2 linked regions of the Homo sapiens genome follow. The protein of the gene in region 1 interacts with the protein of each later gene in a pairwise test. Each region holds a gene or a part of one and is shown in the gene's direction. Other genes may lie near its edges.

Evidence for each region. Proteins that work in one complex are often made in the same cells at the same time.
Region 2: the proteins of ZXDC (region 1) and RORA interact in a two-hybrid assay, tested with the Homo sapiens proteins (one study listed by BioGRID).

What each region holds. Positions count from the first base shown.
Region 1 is NC_000003.12:126,465,888-126,472,915, reverse strand, and holds part of ZXDC (zinc finger protein ZXDC), read left to right. Parts: intron 1-610; coding exon 611-763; intron 764-864; coding exon 865-943; intron 944-1,890; coding exon 1,891-2,021; intron 2,022-6,590; coding exon 6,591-6,761; intron 6,762-7,028. UniProt on the Homo sapiens protein: Cooperates with CIITA to promote transcription of MHC class I and MHC class II genes.
Region 2 is NC_000015.10:60,505,303-60,512,330, reverse strand, and holds part of RORA (nuclear receptor ROR-alpha), read left to right. Parts: intron 1-230; exon of another isoform or gene 231-298; intron 299-709; coding exon 710-1,105; intron 1,106-1,797; exon of another isoform or gene 1,798-1,923; intron 1,924-6,701; coding exon 6,702-6,823; intron 6,824-7,028. UniProt on the Homo sapiens protein: Nuclear receptor that binds DNA as a monomer to ROR response elements (RORE) containing a single core motif half-site 5'-AGGTCA-3' preceded by a short A-T-rich sequence.

The sequences.
Region 1 (7,028 bases):
TGGAATTGTTGAGGCTTAGCTGCTTTGGCCAGGGGTTAGGATTGAGGTGAAGATTACAAAGCAGGGAACCTAAGGAAATTGCGAAAGGAAAAAGAATCCAAACAGCAAGGGACAGGGCTGGCAGTTGGAGGGTGTCAGGGAGGAAATTTGGATATGTAGAGGATGCAGCATCACCCCCAAGGGGTGAAAAATCCTGGCTAGTAGGATGATTTGTAGCCTTTCAAAGATCAACCCTACCAGACAAAATCTTGTTCCTTAGTATTTGATTTCTCTCATGGGGTTCTTGGGTCTCAGTGTGTGTGCAGGATCAGTGCTCCGGAGCCGGCCAGTAGATGGCTGTGAACGGAGGACTTTCTCTTTATCGGTTGCTCCATCTCCAAGTCATGTTGCAACAGGTGGCCAGCGTGTGCCTATTGGCTGCCATTAGCTGCCTTCCTGTGGTGATCACAAAGCCAAGCATTAATGGTCTTCCCTTTTTAGAGAGTGCTTCTGAGTCATGTTTTCCCTTGTCTGCTTCAGTGTGAACAGGGTCTGGTGGGTGTGACTAGCATTAGCTATGTTGTATAATTTTTGCCACGCTTTGAGCAGGGTTTGTGTTTTCCTTGTTCAGGCTGTGAGAAGACATTTATCACAGTGAGTGCCCTGTTTTCCCATAACCGAGCCCACTTCAGGGAACAAGAGCTCTTTTCCTGCTCCTTTCCTGGGTGCAGCAAGCAGTATGATAAAGCCTGTCGGCTGAAAATTCACCTGCGGAGCCATACAGGTAATGAGCTAGGGAACGCACAGCATTTGGACCCAAGATTTGTCTTCATCGTAGCTGTTGGAGTTGTAAATTTTATGCTGTATAATTTTTTCTTTTATAAGGTGAAAGACCATTTATTTGTGACTCTGACAGCTGTGGCTGGACCTTCACCAGCATGTCCAAACTTCTAAGGCACAGAAGGTAATCCTTACATTTTGGTTTGCATTATCAGGTTTGAAAATGAGTGGTTTGTCAGCAGCAGAAACCAATGAATGAAATATCTGTAGACATTTTTTAAGTTGTTAAAAAAGGAGCTCAGTGTTGATGATTTGGAAAATTCAGAAAACTGTAAAAAGAAAATTGCTCAGAATCTCATCACCTGAAGTCAGTTTTTTCTGTGTATACTTTTTTTAAAAAAAGCTAAATTGGCATACTCTGTTCTTAAAAAAAAAACAATTCCAGGTTTTTTTTTTAACTTAACATTGTAGAATAAGCTTTCTTCATGTAATTACAAGTTTTCATGGTGGTAATGACAACCCTGGAGACTGTGTCCAGGTGACACTCAGCACTTTACATGTGTGTCTTCTACCTTCCCAACAACCTCAAAGCTAATGTTCTTATTCTCCCTGTTTTACAGTGAGACTCGGAGAGATTCAGTGGTTTTTCTGTACTTGCACAGCTGGGCTCTGAGGATTTAATATAAAAATGTCACTTAGGAAAAGACACAGTCTTTACAAGTTGGCTTAAGAGAGTCCTTTTGGCATTGCAGCTGATGCTCTGTGCACATTTCTCACGACCGTCTGTCGCTCGGAAAGCTTGTTGATCATTGGGGTTTCTAAACAATAGAAACACCTTCATCAATACATTTGGGACTCCACTGTTCTTAGATTAGCTTATATTAGATTGAAGTAGCATTAATTGTTTGATGTGTGACTCTGGGGTCAGCTTAGTCATTAAAGTAGAATTTTTATGGGGTAGCTAAATTGCAAATCTGCTCACATGGATTAAAGACAGAATTAAGATTTTCCGAAATGTACTGATCATTTTTGTAAATGCAAAGTTTGTGTTTTGGTATGTTTTGTAGAATTTTAAAGAATTATGGTGAGTTGTGTGAGGAATCACAGCTCCTTTATTTTTCTGTCTGGCAGGAAACATGACGATGACCGGAGGTTTACCTGCCCTGTCGAGGGCTGTGGGAAATCATTCACCAGAGCAGAGCATCTGAAAGGCCACAGCATAACCCACCTAGGCACAAAGCCGTTCGAGTGTCCTGTGGAAGGTAGATTTTAAAACATTGCTTTGAGCAGTAAACTAAGTGCAATGCCAACATTTATCCTGTTAAGTTTCCGTTGTTTAAAGGTAAATGTTAGCTGCTTAAAGACTGACTCAATATAAGTTGCAGCATTATGTTTACTTACCTCATTGAGTTAATTGTACTATTTTGGGAGCAGTGACTTGAGAATCAGACGCAGTTTGACTCATGGCCCTGATCCTCATTAGATCTGTGGCTCTAGTTAAGTTACCTGTTTAATTTGGTGGTCGTGAGGATTAGGTGAAATGTGGAAAATGCCTGTTTATCCATCTGGCATGGAGCTCGGACTCAGTAAATGGTAGGTACTTTTGAGATCACGTTTGAATTGTCACTCCAATCATTTTGTAATTGGAGAGCAGTAAAGCTAGACTGACTTTTTCTTTTTTTGTTTAATTTTTGAGACAGTCTTGCTCTGTCACCCAGGCTGGATGCAATGGTGTGATCTTGGCTCATTGCAACCTCTGCCTCCCAGGTTTAAGTGATTCTTATGCCTCAGCCTTCTGAGTAGCTGGGACTACAGGCGTATGCCACCACGCTTGGCTGATTTTTATGCTTTTAGTAGAGACAGGGTTTCACCATGTTGGCCAGGATGGTCTCAAACTCCTGACGTCAAGTGATCCACCCACTTTGGCCTCCCAAAGTGCTGGGATTACAGGTGTGAGCCACCACGCCCAACCTGACTTTTTAAAAGGTATAGTAGAGTGGTTTTTTCCTTTAAAACACTGAAGGCTCAGTTCATTTGCCAGAAATTGGCTGCGTGACCTGTGCGTGACTTGTGCGTGCTGGCCCTACTCTAGTTCTGCAGGTGCACTGGGAGGCAGTGAGCCAGGACACGTCGGGTGGTCATGGATTCAAAGTCTGGCTCTACCGCTCCCTAAAGTGGTGGCCTCAGTCAAGCTGCTTCTCTGGGCCTTGGTTTCCTTACCTGGAAGAGAGAATAATAAAGACCCATTTAAAGCTGAGCCTAGCTCTTAGAACATAATGAACATATATACAAGTGGTGTAACTGAGAAACAGTTCCTCCTTCCGTCAGAGTTTCAGCTGGAGGTGCAGACAGGGGAACAGGTAACATGTAGGGTGCTGCAGGGGCGCAGAGAGTTTCCCCAGACCGGGGTGAGAACGGCCTCGCGGTCAGCTGAAGAAGAGGGGAGAGCACCAGACACGTGCGTGTGGGTGTTGGAGGCGGAGTGGCCTGGGAGAGCCTCTCAGGGCCAGGAGTGGCAGGCTTGAGTGCTTGGGTGAGCGTATGATGTCATCATGTTTGAGTTGTGGCTTAGCCTGGCTTCAGGATTGAAAGCAGCCAGGGGTGTGGGGAGGTGGGATGGCCTGGACGGGGGCCTTAACAGTGGGAAAAGAGAAAGGGGCATCAATAGCAGAGGTGGGAGTTAGAAGTCACAGTATATGGTGATGGATTTGGATTTTAGTTGATGTCAGTGTGTCAGCTGAGTGGATTTGGAGGAAGCAGAGTTTGGTTTGGACATGTTGTGTTTTTGGTACCCTTGTGCGTCTAATGCGCAGAGGGCAGGGGATGTGCCACTGGTGCTGGGGAGAGCAGGCCAGGCAGGGAGCGAAGCAGACAGCACCCGAATCATCATTTAAGCCACAAAAGTGGATGAAATTCTCAAAGAAGAGTATAAATGGAGGAGAGTCAGGGTAGTGTAGTTGATCAAAAGCCTGAATTCTGGAGTCAGACTGCCTGGATTCGAGTCCTAAGTTTGCCACGTAAGTAGGTCTGGGGCCTCGGACAAACACTTGAAGCTCTCTGTGCCTCTTCCTTATCTGTAAAGTGAATAAAACCTCCCAGGGTTGTTGAGAAGGCTGGATTGGTTACTAAGTTTAGCGCATATGGAAAACATCAGTATATATGTCAGTTACTGTCGTTGTTGTGATTGCTGTTAGATTTTCTTAAAAAGGACCTAGGACAGAGCCCTGGGGCTGCCCCAGATTCCGGTGGAGTGGCTGGGACGGGTACTGGCAGGACCAGCAACAGCACAGTGGGGGTGGTGCTGAGGTGAGTGGGGAATGTGTGGAAGTGGGGGTCACCTGGAGTGCTAGGGTGAGCCAGGACCAGGGAACACATGCCTCGGTGCCACCTGCGGGGTTGTCTTGGTGTGCTGATGGATGAGGTTCCGTGGGTCACTCAGGCAGAGTCCTGCTCTGGTGCCCTGAGAGGTGGCCTGAGTGGGAGATGGGGATGGTTTGTGCTGACACTTCTGCCAGAGGTGACTGGGGAAAGGGGAAAGGTGGGAGTTGGCCGTGGAGGATAGGGCATTTGTTTCTGTAGAGCTCTGTTTCTTCCAGCAAGTCTAGGTGTTGTGCTGGGAGAGAAACTGGGCACTCCCCACGTGGTGTATGGGCAGCACGTGGAGATGGAGTTGGAGCTGGTGGGAGGAGCCCAGAACCTCTTCTCAGCTGGACTGAGAGTTGATCATTCTTGGGGTTGGGCAATAGTTGGGGCTGATGACACCATTTTTTCCACTTTGGTAGGTGTTTGAACTGTTCTGTAATAAAAAGTAGAAGGCAAAACTACCTTTTTTTGTAGTAACAGGAGGAGGAGGAAAGGACAAGGCCACAGACCAGAAGTATGTCTGAGGGCAGGTGTTGGGTGGCCTCGTTGCGGCCTCGGGGCTATGTGTGCTGGGGCCTGTGTCTCGTGTTGCCGAGCCTTGTGCTTGCCTGGCCGTCCATGTGAGCGCCTCACTGTCCTCTGAATGCAGCTTTGCAGACAGGTCTGTCAGTGATGGCTGCTTCTGCCTCTCCCTGGTTGCAGCTTGGATTTGTAAAGAATGGAAACAGATCTCAATATACTGGCAGAATTTGGAAAAGCCAGCAGTTAGTACACTTGGAGAAATGATTACATTCCTGGTTGTCGCAGGAAATACAAACCAAAATGAAATATATTTTTTGCCTATGGAATTAGCAAGTACTTTAAAAAATGGAAACCCAGTGCTGGCAAGAGTGTGCAAGGGTCCTGTTGTAGCGTGGCCCTGCCATCAAGAAGGCATTTGACAGAAGATGTGCTCAGAGCCTCTGCTCTGTGACCTGTCTCTAGAAATCCGTGCTCAGGACCCCCAGCTGGGAAAGGGGGTTCCAGGGTACCCTGTGTACCATGGTGAGCAGGGCATGCAGAGGAAACTGCGCGCTTGCAGGGCAGTCCTGGGCCGTCGGACTGTCTCCTTTGTTTCCCAGATGGTTTTTGACGAGCCTGACCTGGAAACGAGTTTGCAGCTGTATTAGAAAATGAAAAATGTAGTTGAAAACTATATTCACAGGCATCCAAGGCCCTTACTCATCTGGCCGTATCCTATCTTCATAGCCTCTTTCCTTAAAATATCCCTCCTCCAGGCGCTGGGCTCTGGCAGTACCACCCCACCGTCTTAAGAAGGTGCCGCGAGTGCGTCGTTGCTCGCACCACTTGCTTAGGCCCGTGCAGAGGCTCTGTAGGCAGGTATGGCTTTATTGGGCCCTCAGCACCCCTGTGAGGTAGGTGTCACTCCCGTTTCACAGAACAGAAAAAGGAGACCCGCAAAAGATAAATAATTTGTCTAAGGCCACACTGCTGGTAAGAGGCTGAACTGGAACCCAGGCTGGGGTGCCTGCACTGCTGCCCTTCATGCCCCCATGCCTTGGCTGGGCAGCTCCTGCGGCAGGAGCACCATCTGCTCTGCTGCAGGGTGGCCCAGTCACCTCGAGGGCTGCATACTCCTGAGACCGCTTTTCTGCCTTCTCGGGAGGTGTGTGGTTTCCTCTGCTGCTTGCATGTTTCAGTGTTGGCACTGACTTCCTTCTGCCCTTTGTTGCAGCAACTGGCTGTTCTATTTGCCCCTACCAGGTCATAGGCCTCTGACCGCCAAGAGCTCCACGTCTCCTTCCTGTGTCCATATGGGGCAGAGCTCCAGCGTAGTAGAAAGCCAGGGCACGGAGGGGAGGTGATTGTAACTTTGAATGTGTCTTGTTTTTCCTCTGATGCCTGTGTGCAGATCAGAGACATAAGTGGACTGGGAGTGTAAGCAAGGAGTTGCCAGCTCTGGGCTCCAGGACACCTGCTCAGTCTCCCTGGGCATCCATTGTCTCAGTGGGAAAGTGAAAGGACTGGCTTTGGTGATCTGTCAAGATAGTTTCCAGCTCTAAATGTCATCCTAGGATTACATTTTTTATGATAATAGCTTAATCGAGATGACTAGAATAAATTGTTTTCAACTGAATATTTAAGCAGTTAATACTTAATTTGACTTAATCTTCCCAACATCTCCATGTAGTGGGTGAAGAAACAGGCACAGAGGTTGCTTAGGCATAGCTGAGGTAGGACTTCAAATCTCCCTACGGGTTTCACTGTATCTCTTGCTTTTTAAAAACAGTTTGCTTTTGACTTGAATTGCTTGTGATGCTACTTCTAGAGATATTTGGTCTCTGTCCTTGCCAGTAGCCAGGGTGCAAAATGCAGGTCTGGTGGTTCTGATCTGATGGGGAAGTGTCACTTGTTCCTGGTTCCTTGGTGATCCTTGGGTTTCACTCTCATTACTCTTTTTGTTCCAGGATGTTGCGCGAGGTTCTCCGCTCGTAGCAGTCTGTACATTCACTCTAAGAAACACGTGCAGGATGTGGGTGCTCCGAAAAGCCGTTGCCCAGTTTCTACCTGCAACAGACTCTTCACCTCCAAGCACAGCATGAAGGCGCACATGGTCAGACAGCACAGCCGGCGCCAAGGTCTGCACTTTCCACGGCCCCCATGGGGAGCTGCTTCCCTGTGAGAAACGGGAACAGTGCCAGTGCCGTCTGTTCCTTCTTCACCTCTTGGAAGGCGTCAGGCAGTGGGGTTGTGGGCGTGGCTGCCAAGCCAAGTGGCCTCTTTTGCACTCTCTGCCACTTTCTTGCCTTTGACCCTCTAATCCCTCCCATGTCTTTTGTTTTTTGAGACAGGGTCCCTCTCTGTCACCCTGACTGGAGTGCAGTGGTGTGATCATGGCTCACTGC
Region 2 (7,028 bases), on another chromosome or scaffold:
CTGGGTGACAGAGAGCAAGACTCTGTCTCAAAATAACTAACTAAATAAATAAAAATAAAGATGGGTCTCAGGGTTCCACAGGGGCTGCCATGACCCATGACCCATGACTGGAGGAGGGGGCTTCTTAGGTCAGGTACTCTGATGTAATTCAAAGAATTACAGAGGCCTCATCCAGTTCATTCAGACCTCACAATGAAGCTGCAGAAGTGGCCATTTGATCAGGGAGAACTGTCGGAGCGTACAAGACGGTGAACTGAATGAACGCTGAGGTTTGACTGCTTATTCCTTGATGAACCCTGTGAGTCTTTGCTTCCCTGTGCCTTGGTCTGAACGTGGGAGAGAAAGAGGTAGCCTAAGCCAGCTGCACGGGGGGAGAGTGAACAAGCCCATTAAGTTATCAGTGGGGCGCAGTGGAAACGGGGGATGTGACAGCAGGGAAACAGAAGTGGCATCTCTCTGGGCCCCTCCTACCTGCACCAGGCCTCTTTCTGAAACATGAGTTTCTCTGGGATGTGTGTTTGCTGTTGGGGAGCTGGAGCGAGTCTGTGTGGGTTGGAACTGTTTTCACCTCTGAATATGTCCTTATTTTGTGGTCATGCAGTTTTGGATTGAGATTGTGTGAGACTTCAAAGGAAACCCCAAAGCTCGCAGGAGAGAATATTGAAGAAAAGCGCATTGTATGTAGTATGGTTTGGCTTTTTTCTTCCAGCTGTAAAATTTGGCCGAATGTCAAAAAAGCAGAGAGACAGCTTGTATGCAGAAGTACAGAAACACCGGATGCAGCAGCAGCAGCGCGACCACCAGCAGCAGCCTGGAGAGGCTGAGCCGCTGACGCCCACCTACAACATCTCGGCCAACGGGCTGACGGAACTTCACGACGACCTCAGTAACTACATTGACGGGCACACCCCTGAGGGGAGTAAGGCAGACTCCGCCGTCAGCAGCTTCTACCTGGACATACAGCCTTCCCCAGACCAGTCAGGTCTTGATATCAATGGAATCAAACCAGAACCAATATGTGACTACACACCAGCATCAGGCTTCTTTCCCTACTGTTCGTTCACCAACGGCGAGACTTCCCCAACTGTGTCCATGGCAGAATTAGGTAATGGCATGCATGCTTCTCCTGGGATGCTCTATTCATGCCCTTTGAAGTAAAAGGGGTATGTCTGACTTTCCTCTAATGAGTTCTGCTAAATGATGCAATTCACCTTTACCATTTGGGCCACTTAATTTTCTGCCCTGCCCCCTTGCTTTTGACCCTCTGCTGTTTCCCATGGTTTATCCAATACATGCATTGACCTCTCAGCATTAGAAATGGGGCAAAACCAACGGAAGCAGTCTTTGAATTCTGCAGAAAACTGTAAGTTCAGGAAATGGCTACATTAACTTCATTAGTGGTTTACTTTAGTTATATTCCAAGGATTGCTTTATACCTAAGGTGACAAAAAAAAAAATGGCAGTCCACAAACTGAACTTGGCCCACAGACATATTTTTTTGCCCAGGGCAGAGTTTTAAAATTTTTGAATCAGTTGCTAATATTTAAATTTGGATAATTATACCCAAAAGTTCAGCTTTTTTAGCTTCTTGTGGGAGGGGAAAAAATGATCTATTTACACTGAGCCAACATTTGTGAATGTCAACAGCCAACTGGCAACAGCCAGGGGATTACACCTTTCAATGGGCCCACCTGACTCCCGCCATTTATATCATATGCACAGCCCCTGTAGGCATCTCATTTTTGCAACTCTGATATATAGTATAAATGTTCAACAGAAATCAGCTTCTTTACTTACCAAAATGTTCTGATGATGGATATTGGTGACAAAATTGATGTAATTCATATAAGGCTCACCATGCAAAAGACAAAAAACTGTCCTTTTCTTATTGCTGGAACATTACTGCTTCTTGGGAGATGTGACCTAGAAATGTTGATAACACAGACAATGGGCAACTTTCCATTTCGAGGAAGTTGTGTTAACATCCGCTGCTATATTTAATCGATTTTTAAGTACAGCACTATTATTAGAAAAACTTTGATAAGAACCTTTGTAGTTTTTAAATTTGATCTGCTCCTCCTGGTGGTTCCTCACACAAGGTTATAATCCTTTGGGATATGTCAATTAGTTGCTGTGGAGATGACTAAGTTAATACAAGGAGAGAATGAAGACTTCAGACGGAAAAGAAACAGCAGGTTCAGACTTGAGCACAGAAATCCTCAGTTCACAGAAATAATGGCTGTGTTCTTTAGACGGTTTCTCTACCTCTGCACCCCATAAAACATCTTTTAAGTGAAAATTTATATTTCCAGTAAAATCTTTCTCCAAATAGAACAAATTGAATGTTCTTTACGGTTTTTACACAAGCATCTCTTTATGGGTCTAAATTTAAATCCTCAAGAGCAGGGACATTTTAAGCCTGGTCTTTAACCACTGAACAGCATTAAAAGGTGTATTGCAGCTCTTTTGATTAACAGAGAAACCTCTGAACTAGAAGCCAAGCTGAGCAGAGGTAGGTTTGATTTTTTTTTTTTTTTCTTGAACTAGAACAAAAACCTTCCATTTTTGTCATGAAATCTTGGTTGGCTGAGCCTTAAGCAGAACTGTAATGAAAGTACAATTTTCAGATATGAATAAGGATTTGATTGAAAGCTGACATGATACCATGAAAAATGACCTGACTCACTTTAGGTTTGCCTCCACCTTACCATAAATACTAGTGACTCTGTCCTGTTTGCTTGTCAAATATTCAATCCTGAAATAAATCCATAGGCCTTAGGCAAAGCGTGCCCTTGAACATGGCACTTTGGCTAAAAAATGCACTCATACCGAAGTGGGGCCAGAAATGGCTGAGCCGATTCCCTGAGGCTCCCGGACAAGTCAGCTTCCTCTTCCATGGTCTCACTTTCCAGTGCAGTCTGGGAGCCCTGCCCCCTCATGCTTGCTCTATGTGCTTTTAAATTAGGGATTTTTCACAGGTGTTGTGGTATTTACCAAGATAAATTAAATGAGATCATCACTAGGAGAATTCCCAAACCCAAAACTAAACTAGCATTTATCTGGAAAGTATATAATTGGGCTCTAATTCTCTTATCCCATTTATACATGCAAAGTGTTTCAGGGAGCTAAGAGTATCATGAAAGTGGCCCAAGTCTTGTTGCTGCTTCTCCAAAGCTACTTAAATTTCCCTGGTATTTCTTTTGGGGCTTAAAGCCTGCTATCTCTTTAACTAAGACTCTTGACTTCATTTTAGGCTAAACTTTGTCATCAGATTTTAAACAAGTGAAACCAATTGTATAATAGGAAAATAAATTATAAACCAACACATCCTAAGTCCAATTCTCTCTTTCAAGTGTAGTATGCACAACCTATTACTTTTAGTGAAAAATATGACTTCATCCTTGGCTAGGAAATTTTGCCCTTGGTGTACAATTAGTACCTGAATTAGACATTCCAGATAAACGACCTAGGTTTTAAGTGCAAATTAGGTTTGTTACTATAATTGATATCTAAAGCTTTGCGCAGGAGAAACAGCTGATATACTGGGCAAAGCATGAGACAAGAAATCCGCTTATATGGGTTGTGGTCCTGGCATTAATATAAGTTATACAACCCAGTATACACCACGTAACATCTGCGAGCTGTAGTTTCTCTACTCCTAGAATATAAAGGTCTGTGTCTGAATCATAGCTCTGCTACTTGCCAGCTGTGACACCTTGAAGAAGTCACTTCACTGTGGTTCAGTTTCCTCCTCTGTAAAATGGAGATAATACTAGTACCTTTCTCTTGGGGTTGTTATAAGGATTAAGTGAGAAAACATACATATTCAGGATAGACACAAATTATGTGGGACTGGCATATAGTGAATGCTATATGTGTTAACTGCTATCATAATTATTAATGTCATTATTATTTGTTAAACAAGGACAGTTTGGACCAGATGCTATCTAAAGTTCCTTCCCACTATGAAAATCTGTGACTAACTCAGAAGCGAGGACTTCCCATCTGAAGTATCGAGGCGCTGGCTGTATTGCTGAAGCAGTCATGGTTGGGGCACATGACTTGCCCCAGTCACAAAGTGAGGTAGACTATAGATTATCTGCTGAGCTCAGACAGAAGCCAGGTCTCCTAACTCCTAGCCCAAGGTATTTCACTATTCCAGACTTTATCTGAGAGACCACGCTTAAATTCTCGAATTTTATTCAGCCTGACCATACTCGCCTTTGCTGAAATGGAGATTTAAAAATAGCAAAGTGTCTAAAATCTTACACTTGCCAAATCGACTATGAATTGGAATGAAAGGCTGTTGGTGAGCAGATGGTGTGAATGCAACCACTGCCCTCTACTGGTATGTCAGGTACACTGCATGATTTGTTGTCTCACTTTTTATTGGCTGTTTTAAATAGGTAGGGATAAGTGGCCACAGTTTCTTAAGACAAAGTGAAACCACAAGATGCTAAGTATCTTATTAACTAGAAATGAAACATAACCTGGAAGGAAATGATATGAGCCTCTTCTCATCCTTCACTCCACAGCATCCCCCCCTACTTCCCTGCGAAGACTCTTCATCTTCATCATTTTTTTATCGGCAAAAATTGGTTTACATTCTAGAAACGACCTTATATAGTGAGAGTTCTTTCCAAAAGAGGTAGTTCACTACCTTATTTATGTATTTTCTTGTTTCTTACTCCCCATTATTTTTGTCTTTACTCACCTATTCTCCAGCGTCATTGATTCTAAGACATGTAATTTACTGGCTTCTCTCTCTCACTCTCAGTTTCTCATTCTTTCCTTTACATTTGTTCTTTTATTTGTGTTTTATTTTTTATGTTATTTATTCATGCTGTTTTAGTGTCTATGTGTTGCCAAGTAGGGCCATTCAGGTTTATTATGTTTCAGTGTCTCTAAGGAGATTCTGGTTTCCAGCTCCATTTAGGTGAACCTGCTCTGTTTTCACACAAACAAGTCTGCTTCTGTTTGACAAAAGCAGTAACAAATTTCCAAACAAAAAGATATTCTCCCTAGTGTTGCCAAGTTTGCATTCAGCACCGTTCTTTTAAAATGACTTGCCTATTCTATACTCAAAACCCTAGGGAGAGGGATCATTTTTTGATATGGTTTTATATTCATGGGATTTTGTCAATTCTTTTAAAAAATACTTCTTTAATCATCCTTCCCTTCCAGAACAATTATTACCAAGCTGCTCCAAATTGTTAGTTCCTGGCATCTAGATTCTAGCAGCCTTCTATGTGGTCCTCCTGCCTGAGCTTCTCTGTGCTCCAATACACCAAGCACAAAACTGCTTGTTCCATTTCCCCAGATATAATTTTCTTTTTTTTTTTTTAAGAGGGAGTCTCGCTCTATTGCCCAGGCTGGAGTGCAGTGGTGTGATCTCGGCTCACTGCAACCTCCAGCTTTCAGGTTCAAGCGATTCTCCTGCTTCAGCCTCCCAAGTAGCTGGGATTACAAGCACCCGCCACCACGCCCAGCTAATTTTTGTATTTTCAGTAGAGACAGGGTTTCATGATGTTGGCCAGGCTGGTCTCGAACTCTTGACCTCAGGTGATCCACCTGCCTCAGCCTCTCAAGTAGCTGGGATCACAGACAGCCAACACCACGCCAATTTTTTTTTGTATTTTTAATAGAGACAGGGTTTCACCATGTTGGCCAGGCTGGTCTTGAACTCCTGACCTCAAGTGGTCTGCCCAGCTCAGCCTCCCAAAGTGCTGGGATTACAGGCGTGAGCCACCACACCCAGCCAATCTCTTCCTTTTCTGACAGCTTCAATTACTTTTTTCTTTCTCTTCTTCTGTAATTCAACTTTATACCTTATTATCTAGACTTGAATTGTCCTTCCAGTGTGTTCATACGTGTTCACCAGATTACAAGCTCCTAGAGAAAACTTCTTTGGCCTCTAGGTCTTTCATATCTTCAAACTCCTTATGCTCAAGTATAATAATAACTAATATTCTGTAGCACATTCTAAGTAATCCTCCCCATTCTAAGGGCTCAACTCTTTTAATTCTCATGGCAGCCCTGTGAAATAGGTACCATTTCCCTCATTTTACAAATGAGGAAACCAAGCACAAAGAGGTTAAATAACATACCCGAGATCACACAGCTAGTAAGCAGCAGAGCTGAGATACAGACTCAAATGGTCTAGCTCCAGAGTATGTGGCTTCACAACTACACTATGCATAGCCACATGGTAGGCCCTCAGTAATGCTTGTTCTGCAATTTGCAGGAAAAACAAAAGAAATACCTAGTTGTCACCATAAAAGAATATCATTTTCTAGTTTTTCAAGAATAAGAATAATCCTTCCCAGGTCAATGTTATGTGGCAGATGTGTCTTCATAAAAATGCCAAGAAGAAGCACCACGTCAATCATTTCCTATGTCTATCTAGGTCAATATTTTTTCATTCCTAGACATTGGTATAAAGGCACAGAACAAGGGCAAAGTCAGGAGGGTCTTTGAAGTCAGCAGGTCTTATCTTCAAATGCTGGCTTTGCAAAGTCCCTGTCCTCCTTCACGTTCCCAAATACAAAACAGTTCCAAATTACTTGTTTAAATGTGTAAAGACAGTCAAAACTCGCACAGCACATTGTTTTCTACTTGTTATTTCTTAAAGCAAATATTAAATCACCAATTATTCAAAGAACTTCGCTTTTCGTGTTTGTGATCTCCCGTTTTCTCCTTAGAACACCTTGCACAGAATATATCTAAATCGCATCTGGAAACCTGCCAATACTTGAGAGAAGAGCTCCAGCAGATAACGTGGCAGACCTTTTTACAGGAAGAAATTGAGAACTATCAAAACAAGGTATGATCTGAGGAATTTTTCCTCCTAGGATTGAGGCAATATTGGGAAGGGTGTTGGTATAGGAAAGTTGGTCAAGAGTTCACACAGACTAAAGAATGAATGTCATCAGGTTTCTGTTTAAATATCTTTTTTCTGAAGCTACTAATGTACTTGAGGCTTTGCCATTTAACTCAGATGCAAAATTTCAGCAATAGCAAATAATTTC